2 linked regions of the Homo sapiens genome follow. The protein of the gene in region 2 interacts with the protein of the main gene of each other region in a pairwise test. Each region holds a gene or a part of one and is shown on either strand. Other genes may lie near its edges.

The links. The genes of interacting proteins can lie anywhere in the genome.
Region 1: the proteins of ISY1 (region 2) and DHX8 interact in binary tests that used the Homo sapiens proteins (3 or more experiments, as listed by UniProt).

What each region holds. Positions count from the first base shown.
Region 1 is NC_000017.11:43,490,475-43,494,359, reverse strand, and holds part of DHX8 (ATP-dependent RNA helicase DHX8), read right to left. Parts: intron 3,196-3,885; coding exon 3,110-3,195; intron 2,178-3,109; coding exon 2,068-2,177; exon of another isoform or gene 1,986-2,067; intron 1,699-1,985; exon of another isoform or gene 1,680-1,698; coding exon 1,320-1,679; intron 916-1,319; coding exon 771-915; intron 678-770; coding exon 474-677; intron 1-473.
Region 2 is NC_000003.12:129,139,641-129,145,252, forward strand, and holds part of ISY1 (pre-mRNA-splicing factor ISY1 homolog), read right to left. Parts: intron 846-5,612; coding exon 728-845; intron 1-727. Other genes in the region: ISY1-RAB43 protein, read right to left, coding at 728-845. UniProt on the Homo sapiens protein: Component of the spliceosome C complex required for the selective processing of microRNAs during embryonic stem cell differentiation. Required for the biogenesis of all miRNAs from the pri-miR-17-92 primary transcript except miR-92a.

The DNA.
Region 1 (3,885 bases), on a different chromosome or scaffold from region 2:
AGCTTAGCTAAGGATTACACGGCTAATAAGTGGCTGATATGGTTTGGCTGTGTCCCCACCCAAATCTCATCTTGAATTTCCACGTGTGTGGGAGGGACCCAGTGGACGGTAACTGAATCATGGAGGCAGCTCTTTCCCACGCTGTTGTCACGATAGTGAGTAAGTCTCATGAGATCTGATGGTTTTAAAAAGGGCATTTCCCTGCACAAGCTCTCTTGTCTACTGCCATGTGAGATATGCCTTTCACCTTCCTCCATAATTGTGAGGCCTCCCCAACCAAGTGGAATTCTAAGTCCAATAAACCTCTTTCTTTAGTAAATTGCCCAGTCTCAGGTACGTCTTTATCAGGAGTGTGAAAACAGACTAATACAGTGGCCAAAAGTTATCCCAGGCCATCGTGCTCCAGGGCACACCCCTAAGCACCATGCTACATGCTGAATGACTATCTGGTCATGAAAACTAAAGGCCCCAACCTGTTTGATCTCCCACTTCTCTGGGTCAGAGATTCGGGTGAGGCGCTTGCGTTCCAGTGAGTCGTCCTCTACTTCAGGAGCACTGACAAGGGACAAGTGAGTGGGTCTATCAGGATTCCGCATTGAGGTCTCCTCATTGGTCTCCCCGACAAGATTTCGCCGTCTATTTGGGTTTAGATCTTCTCCAGTCTCTTGATCCACATCCTAAGGCACAAAAACAAGGGAGCTGTCTCACTTGCTGTCCTCTTCCATTCCCTTGGCCATCACATGTAAGAACAGGCTGACCATCTCACCTACCTTCATGCTCAGGCTGGTCTTGGTCCCAGTGAAGGACAGCACTTTGACTTTGACCCTCTGGCCTTTGCTCACGACATCAGCTACATTGGCCACACGACCCTCCCGCCGGAGCTCAGAGATGTGCACCAGGCCTTCCCACCGCTTCCTGAGGGAGAGCCAGACACATCTGGAACATGCCAAAAAATATTTTTCCCCCAACCAATTTCTACCCTTACTGGAACTAACAAAAGAAAATGGTCTTAAACTCAAGAGAAAAGTACCATGAAGGTGGTCAAACAATAAAATAGTATTAACACTCTCCTCATGGGGAGACATGGGGTGGGGAAGCAAATTCTATCTGTCCCAACAAGCAAAGGACAGATCTCCTGAAGACAGAGAAAGGAATAAATGGCTCTGTAACATTTCAAAAGAGTCAATTTCTAAGAACCATGTATGGCTGATTTGACTAAAGTGTCATTAATCAAAGTAACTTTTTAGAATGTGAACATCCTCAGTGATAAAAGAAATTCTGCCCATCACTGGTGTGAACAAAAGAGCACCAGTCATTACCTTAGTCCTTCCAGCTGCACAAAGCAACCAAACTGCATGATGCTGGTAACTTTGCCATTATAAATGTCACCAATGGTGGGCTCTTCTGGAGGAGGGCGGTCCACATGCTTATCCCGCCATCTATCCAGATTCCGCTCTCCATATTTGTCCCGGTCCTTCCGGTCTTTGGGGGGACTCTGACTCCTGCTCCTGGACCGATATCTAGACTTCACTTTATTCCTCTCCCGGGTCCTGGAACGTGATCGAGAGCGGGATCGGTGTCTCCGCTTGTGGTCTCTATCTCGGTTTCGTTCCCTATCTCTGTCTCGATCTCGGTTTCGATCTCGGCTTCGACTCCGCTTCTTCTTCTTTGTCCTGTCCCTAACAAATCAATAAGCACCTGTTTAAAAAAGAAACCAATCCGATTTCATCTTCGCATCCCCAAGCACCCAGTACAGTGCCATGCACATGGTAGGTACCCACTAGGTTTTGAACTGAATTAGAGTTTCAATAACTACGACATCCCTATAAGCCAATAAAGAATTGAGCCACAAACATATTCAGCCTCTTTCAACCCTGACTTCTATATTCTGAACAACCTAGCATTTGCTACATACACTTAGCAGGAAGCAATGAAAACAGATCCAACAATATGATATATGACCAGTCCAGATTCTGTAAACTTGCCCAAAATTTTGCTTGGCTGGTCCATAATATTCAACTGTCACAGTACCCTAAACTTCCAAAGGACAGGACACTAAGGACAAACCGGTGTTCAGCATCTCTTTGCTTCTCCTGGCCTGCTGCGCTGGGCATTAAAGCTTCCAGTTCTTTCAGGACATCCACAGCAACTTTCACATCATCTTCATCCAACATGGTCTGCAGAGGTAGAGGCCGGCAAAGTTAGGAAAAAAAACTACTCAAGAATCTGTATGTACCTCAGGTACATCTATAAATCACTAATCACTATGTGAGGGAAATAGAAGAGGGGCAGAGATTTCAAACTTGATTCAGGATAGATGCAGAAGAAATGGAAAAAAGGCTCTTGAGAATTACTGCTACATTTGACAAATCCCCTCTGTCCTTAATAGAATTCTATGAAAGGCAGTTAGATATTAATCATCCCTGCCATGAAAGAATGCAAGTGATGATTATATTAATAGAAAACAGGTGTTAAAAATTTTAAAAAGCAACTCTCCCTCTGCACTCTTCCTCCCTACCCCCACTCCAGCTTTATTTTTTTAAATAGCCCTTATTGCTATCTGCTATGTTACATACCTATTTGTTTGTTTATTGCCTATCTCCTCCCCACCAGAATGTTTACATGTTTATTTCCTGCTCCCTACCCCAAAATTAGGATATAATCTCCAAAGGCTGAAACTCTTGTCTGTTCTGTTCACTGCTGTTATCCAGGTACTTAGAACAGTGTTTGGCATACAGTAAGTACTCAATAAATATTTATTAAAATGAAATTTAAAAATCAAAATGCTTTAAAAATTAGACCTTTAACAAGTAACAGAGCAAAAAAAAAAAATCTAATTTCACACCTTAGGCATCTGTTCCAGAACCTTATTTCATATTCCTAATCACTACTTCCCCAAATTCCCAATCTCATTTCCCTTGAATATCATTCTCAGAACCCCTTAACAAATTCAATACATAGTACATGCTCAGGGAGTGATCAAACACTTTCATTCTTAAAAATAAGTTACAACAAAGGCAAACTTAAAATTAATAAAATTACTATGAGACAAAGAAAAGGGGTTGAGAATATATATTTATAGTAGACACTCTTAAAATGGTATCAGTACCCGAACAGAAGGGTTGTCCGGTTGGCAAAGGACTGGGAAGAGTTCCTTCAGCTTTTCTTTTTCTGTTTTAGGTTTAACAACTGGATCTTGTTTCATTAAAGAGCATGAAGGGGTTAAAAAAAGAGATATATATTTAATATTATTAATGATTAACAAAATAACTTCAACAATAGATTTGTATCAAACTGAAACAGAACATGGCATTTTGCTATATATTAATCATACCTGTTACTATAAATGTAATTTAATTTTCTAAATACATTGATCACAAACTATCTCGAAATGTAGCAGAAAGAGGAGTGTAGCAATACTCATTGGGTTATGTCTTATCTTTTTTATTTTGTCTTAAGTCGTTTGAAATTTTTTTTCCCCTTGAAACGGGGAAAAAAACCTCTGTCACTCAGGCTAAAGTACATTGGTGCAACTATGGCTCACTGCAGCTTCACCCTTTTGGACTCAAGCAACACTCCTTCCTTAGCCTCCCAAGTAGCTGGAACTACGGAGGCACGCCATCATGCCTGGCTAATTTTTTTATTTTTTTGTAGAGATGAGGTCTCTCTATGTTGCCCAGGCTGGTCTAAAACTCCTGGGCTCAAGTGATACTCCCACCTTGGCCTCCCAAAGTGCTGGGATTCCAGCAGTGAGCCGCTAGGCCCAGCCCATTTGAAAAATCTTACTGGAACATTTACTTGCTCAGCAACTGCTGAGAGGAAAACAAATGCAATTTACAGGATGTTCAAAACCTACACCATTCTAGAAGCTAAGCTCAGCTGGAA
Region 2 (5,612 bases):
TTTCTCCTTTTTTTTTTTTGAGATGGAGTTTCGCTCTTGCTGTCCAGGCTGGAGTGCAATGGCACGATCTCGGCTCACCGCAACCTCCACCCCTCAGATTCAAGCAATTCTCCTGTCTCAGTCTCCTGAGTAGCTGGGAGTACAGGCATGCACCACCATGCCCAGCTAATTTTGTATGTTTAGTGGAGACGGGGTTTCTCCATGTTGGTCAAGCTGGTCTCTAACTCCCTACCTCAGGTGATCCGCCCACCTCAGCCTCCCAAAGTGCTGGGATTACAGGCATGAGCCACAGTGCTGGGCCTCACTTTTCTCCATTTTTACATTTAGGGTTTGGCCCAAGATTGTATTTGTTCTTTGGTTATCATTTGTTCAACTAATAAGTAACTGAAACATGACCTGATTCAATGAACTTCAGAGCCTGCCCCAATCGTTCTGGGAAACTTCAAATAGGGAAACTCCTTGTCCAGACTGACAGATTAGCACCTGCCAAAGGCAGAATCCTGCACCAGCCAATCCTGGGCACACTTTCCAGCCCCAATTGTATGGCATGGGCCTATGATTCTATCCCAGTTCTTAAGAATTCTCAGTTAAAATCTGGGAACAATAATTCCTACACTATAAGGCTGTTATGCAACTAAGAAAAAAAAGTAAGAGCAGTTAGCATATAGCATATCTACTCTTATGATTATTACCAATGAAAGGCTAAAACTGTCACAAACTTACTTACGTTCTTTTTCAAACAGCTCTCTAACACCAGGCAAATCTTTTGCTGCTCCAAAGTACTTGTAACCTCGGTTTCCTGGGACTTCTTTTCCTTCATGATCCAGCATTTTAGGGCCAACTTTCTTATTGGGAAGAAAAAAAGAGAAAATGGATCTGTTAGTTAGTTAGTTAGTTATTATTTATTTATTTATTTGAGGCGGAGTCTCGCTCTGTTGCCCATTTATTTATTTGAGGTGGAGTCTCGCTCTGTTGCCCAGGCTGGAGTGCAGTAGCACAATCTCACTGCAACCTCCACCTCCTGGGTTCAAGTGATTCTCCTGCCTCAGCCTCCTGAGTAGCTGGGATTACAGGTGCGTGCCACCACGCCTGGCTAATTTTTGTATTTTTAGTAGAGACGGGGTTTCACCATGTTGGTCAGGATGGTCTTGAACTCCTGACCTCATGATCCACCCACCTCGGCCTCCCAAAGTGCTGGGATTACAGGCGTGAGCCACTGCGCCTGGCAGATCTGATCTTTAAACCCACTATTTCCATGTTTGCAAATATATTTTAAGATAATAGCTGGATGCAGTGGCTCACACCTGTAATCCTAGCACTTTGGGAGGCCAAGGTAGGCGATCACTTCAGCTTAGGAGTTCAAGACCAGCCTGGGCAACATGGCAAAACCCTGTCTCTACTAAATATACAAAAATTAGCTGGGTGTGGTGAGACATGCCTGTAATCCCAGCTACTCAGGAGACTGGGGCAGGAAGAATTGCTTGAACCTGGGAGGTGGAGATTGCAGCGAGCCAAGATCGTGCCACTGTACTCCAGCCAGGGCTGGAGTAAATTAAATAAATAAATAAATAAATAAATAAATAAATAAATAAAAAACACTTATGGGCTGGGCACGGTGGCTCACACCTGTAATCCCAGCACTCTGGGACACCAAGGTGGGAAGATCACTTGAGGCCAGGAGTTCACGACCAGCATGGGCAACATGGCAAAACCCTGTCTCTACAAAAAAATGCAAAAATCAGCCAGGCATGGTGACACACACCTATCGTGCCACTGCATTCCAGCCTGGGTGACAGAGCAAGACCCTGTCTCAAAAAAAATAAATAAAACTAGGCCGGGCGCAGTGGCTCACGCCTGTAATCTCAGCACTTTGGGAGGCCGAGGTGGGCGGATCACGAGGTCAGGAGACCGAGACCATCCTGGCTAACATGGTGAAACCCCGTCTCTACTATAAATACAAAAAATTAGCTAGGCATGGTGGTGGGCGCCTGTAGTCCCAGCTACTCAGGAGGCTAAGGCAGGAGAACGGCATGAACCTGGGAGGCGGAGCTTGCAGTGAGCTGATATCACACCACTGCACTCCAGCCTGGGTGACAGAGCAAGACTCCGTCTCAAAAAAATAAAATAAAATAATTAAAAAATAAATAAATAAATAAAGATAAAAAACACGATGCTAAGTGACAAAACCTTTAAAAAGATTACAAACAACCTATATGACAATTAGTGGAAAACAAATGAAATATATCCAGAAGATACAACTATATCTATTAAAACTGATGATTTGCTGGGTGCGGTGGCTCACATCTGTAATCCCAGCACTTTGTGAGACCAAGGCGGGAAGATCACCTGAGGTCAGGAGTTCAAGACCAGCCTGGCCAACATGGTAAAATCCCATCTCTACTAAAAATACAAAAATTAGCAGGGTACGGTGGTGCACATCTGTAATTCCAGCTACTTGGGAGGCTGGAGCACAAGAATCACTTGAACCTGGGAGGCGGAGGTTAGGGTGAGCTGAGATCGCACGCCACTGCACTCCAGCCTGGACGACAGAGCGAGACTCTGTCTCGAAAAAAAAAAAAAAAAAGACGATTTGACAACTACATGTAGTATGTGACCCCAGATCAGGTCCTGTACTGCAGGGGAAATGCTACCAAGGACATTATTGGGAAAACTGATGAAATGCCACATGGATTCAATTATTGTAGCCAAGTTAAATTTCTTAAACTTGATAGCTCTACCATGGTTACATAAGAGAATATTCTTCTTAGGAAATACACATATATTAAAGGGTAAAGAAGCATGATGTATTGTAACCTACCTTTCAAGTGGTTCACAAAAAATAAATCTCAAGGTACACAAAGAAAATAAAGCAAATACAAGCAAAATGTTAAATACTGGTAAATCTGTATAAAGGGTATATAAAAGTTCTCTGTATATTTTTGCAATGCTCTTTGAGTTAAAAAACATTTTTTTAAATCATACAATTTGGCTGAGCACAGCGGCTCATGCCTGTAATCCCAGTACTTTGGGAGGCTGAGGCAGGATGACTGATTGACTCCAGGAGCTCAAGACCAGCCTGGGCAACATAATGGGACACCATTTCTACAAAAAATTTAAAAATTAGCTGGGCATGGCCAGGCACGGTAGCTCACACCTATAATCCCAGCACTTTGGGGAGCCAAGGCAGGTGGATCACCTGAGGTAGGGAGTTCGAGACCAGCCTGGCCAACATGGTGAAACCCTGTCTCTACTAAAAATACAAAAATTAGCTGGGCGTGGTGGTGGGCACCTGTAATCCCAGCTACTCTGGAGGCTGAGGCATGAGAATCGCTTGAACCCAGGAGGGGGAGGTTGCAGTGAGTCGAAATCACACTCCTGCACTCCAGCCTGGGTGACAGAGCGAGACTCCGTCGCAAAAACAAAAATTAGCTGAGCATGGTGGCACACACCTGTCATCTCAGCTGCTCAGGAGGCTGAGGTAAAAGGATTACTTGCACCTGGAGTCAAGGCTGCAGTGAGCCATGATCGTGCCACTGCACTCCAGCCTGGGGTGACAGAGTAAAATCTTGTCACAAAAACTAAGAGGCTGGGTGCAGTGGCTCACATCTGTAATTCCAGCAGTTTGGGAGACCAAGGCGGACAGATCACCAGAGGTCAGGAGTTCGAGACCAGCCTGGCCAACATGGTCAAACCCCAACTCTACTAAAATATAAAAATTAGCCAGGTGTGGTGGCGCACACCTATAATCTCAGCTGCTCTGGAGGCTGGGGCACAAGAATTGCTTGAACCCAGGAGGCAGAGGTTGCAGTGAGCCAAGATCGCACCACTGCACTCCAGCCTGGGTGATGAAGCGAGACTCTGTCTCAAAAAAAAAAAAAAAACTAAACTAGAATAAAATAAAACAATATACATATCTATCATATGATTATTTATTGACACGAAACTGTATTCCTTGTACAGTTTAGAGAATAAAGCACATAGAATATTAATGAATTTCTATAATGTATATACTAATATGTATTTTTTATATCTTATAATTTTTATATTTATATTTTTTCTCTGCACAAAAATATGTACTGTTTATATAATGAAAGCTACCATTTTGAAAAGAAAAACAAAATCCAGAACCAAAATTGTACATACAGTGAGTATGGTTTCAATTATGACATTCATACAAAAACAACGGAAGGAGAAAAAAGATAAAGAGCATATTCAAGTGGCTGCACTTATGTAATGGGATTGTGACTGAGTGTTGTTCTGCTTCTTTGTACTTTTCTGAACTTAGTGGTAATATATTACTTTTATATGTAGAAAATAAAAATAAAATTATTAAGCATTAAAAATCTCTGGAAAAAATATATAAAAATATTAATAGTGTTGAATTTGGGTGGTGGAACTTAACATTTCACATACGAATTTTTTCATACCTGAGACCACTTTTCTAGGTGGATTAATGAGCTGCTTTTAAGCTGCCTCACAGGAAAAATAAAATCTCCACCACACAACTGCTGAAGAGATCAGGCAAGGGCTCACTCTGGCAGGACATATACTAAAATCGGAATGATACAGAGAAGATTGGCATATAAAAATAAAAAACAGCAAAAATAAAATAAATGAAAAGAAAAAAAGAAGTTAGGCAAGACACCCAAGAGAAGTCTCCTAGTGCAGTGCCCAGACACAAAAGGTGCTTCAGAAATGGGAGTGCCTTTCCTCTTCTGCAGTGGGAAGGCTGAATACTCCATTTGTATGTACTAGGGTAAGAATTATGGTTATGTGTTAGACTTTCACAAGGTGAAAAGATCAACACGTAGAAAAACTGCATGTGTTTCTTATATAACACATTATAGTCCATTGATTACATACTGTTTCCAGTGATCTGAGGTAGGTCTCATCACAAAAGTGTGAACGAATTAGGCTCTGGGGCAGGAGTTTTCAAAACCAAGACCCATTAGTGCATCATGAAATCAGTTAAGCAGGTCACAAACATCAAATTTTTAAAAACCAAAATAGAACAGAATAAAAAATATACCATACTTATTGTTTTTTTCAGCACCTTTGTGTGCTGGCTTGTGATTGTGTGTGTGTGTGTCTGTGTGTGTTTTACAATGAGCCATGTTCTTAAAAGTTTGAAAGCTATGGTTCTAGAGTATTGCATTTATAGAAGTCCAAAAAAAGGACAGAATGTAGTGTCTCTATGGCTCTCAGATAACAAAGCCAACAAATAGCTGTCTCCAGTTCCTAAGGCACTTAAAGAATGTGAGGAACCATGCTCATTTTATCTTTTTTTTGAGACAGCATCTTGCTCTGGCACCCAGGCTGAGGTGCAATGGCATGATGACAGCTCACTGCAGCCTCCACCTCCCAGGCTCAAGCCATCCTCCCACCTCATCCTTCTGAGCAGCTGGGACTATAAGCATGTGCTACTATGCCTAGCTGATTTTTAAATATTTTGTAGATTCAGGGTCCCACAACACTGCCCAGGCTGGTCTCAAACTTCTGTGCTCAAGGGCTTATCCTGTCTCAGCCTCCCAAAGTGCTAGGATTACAGGTGTGTGCCACTGCACCCAGTGAAGGACCATAGTCATTTTTTTTTTTTTTTTTGAAGACAGAAT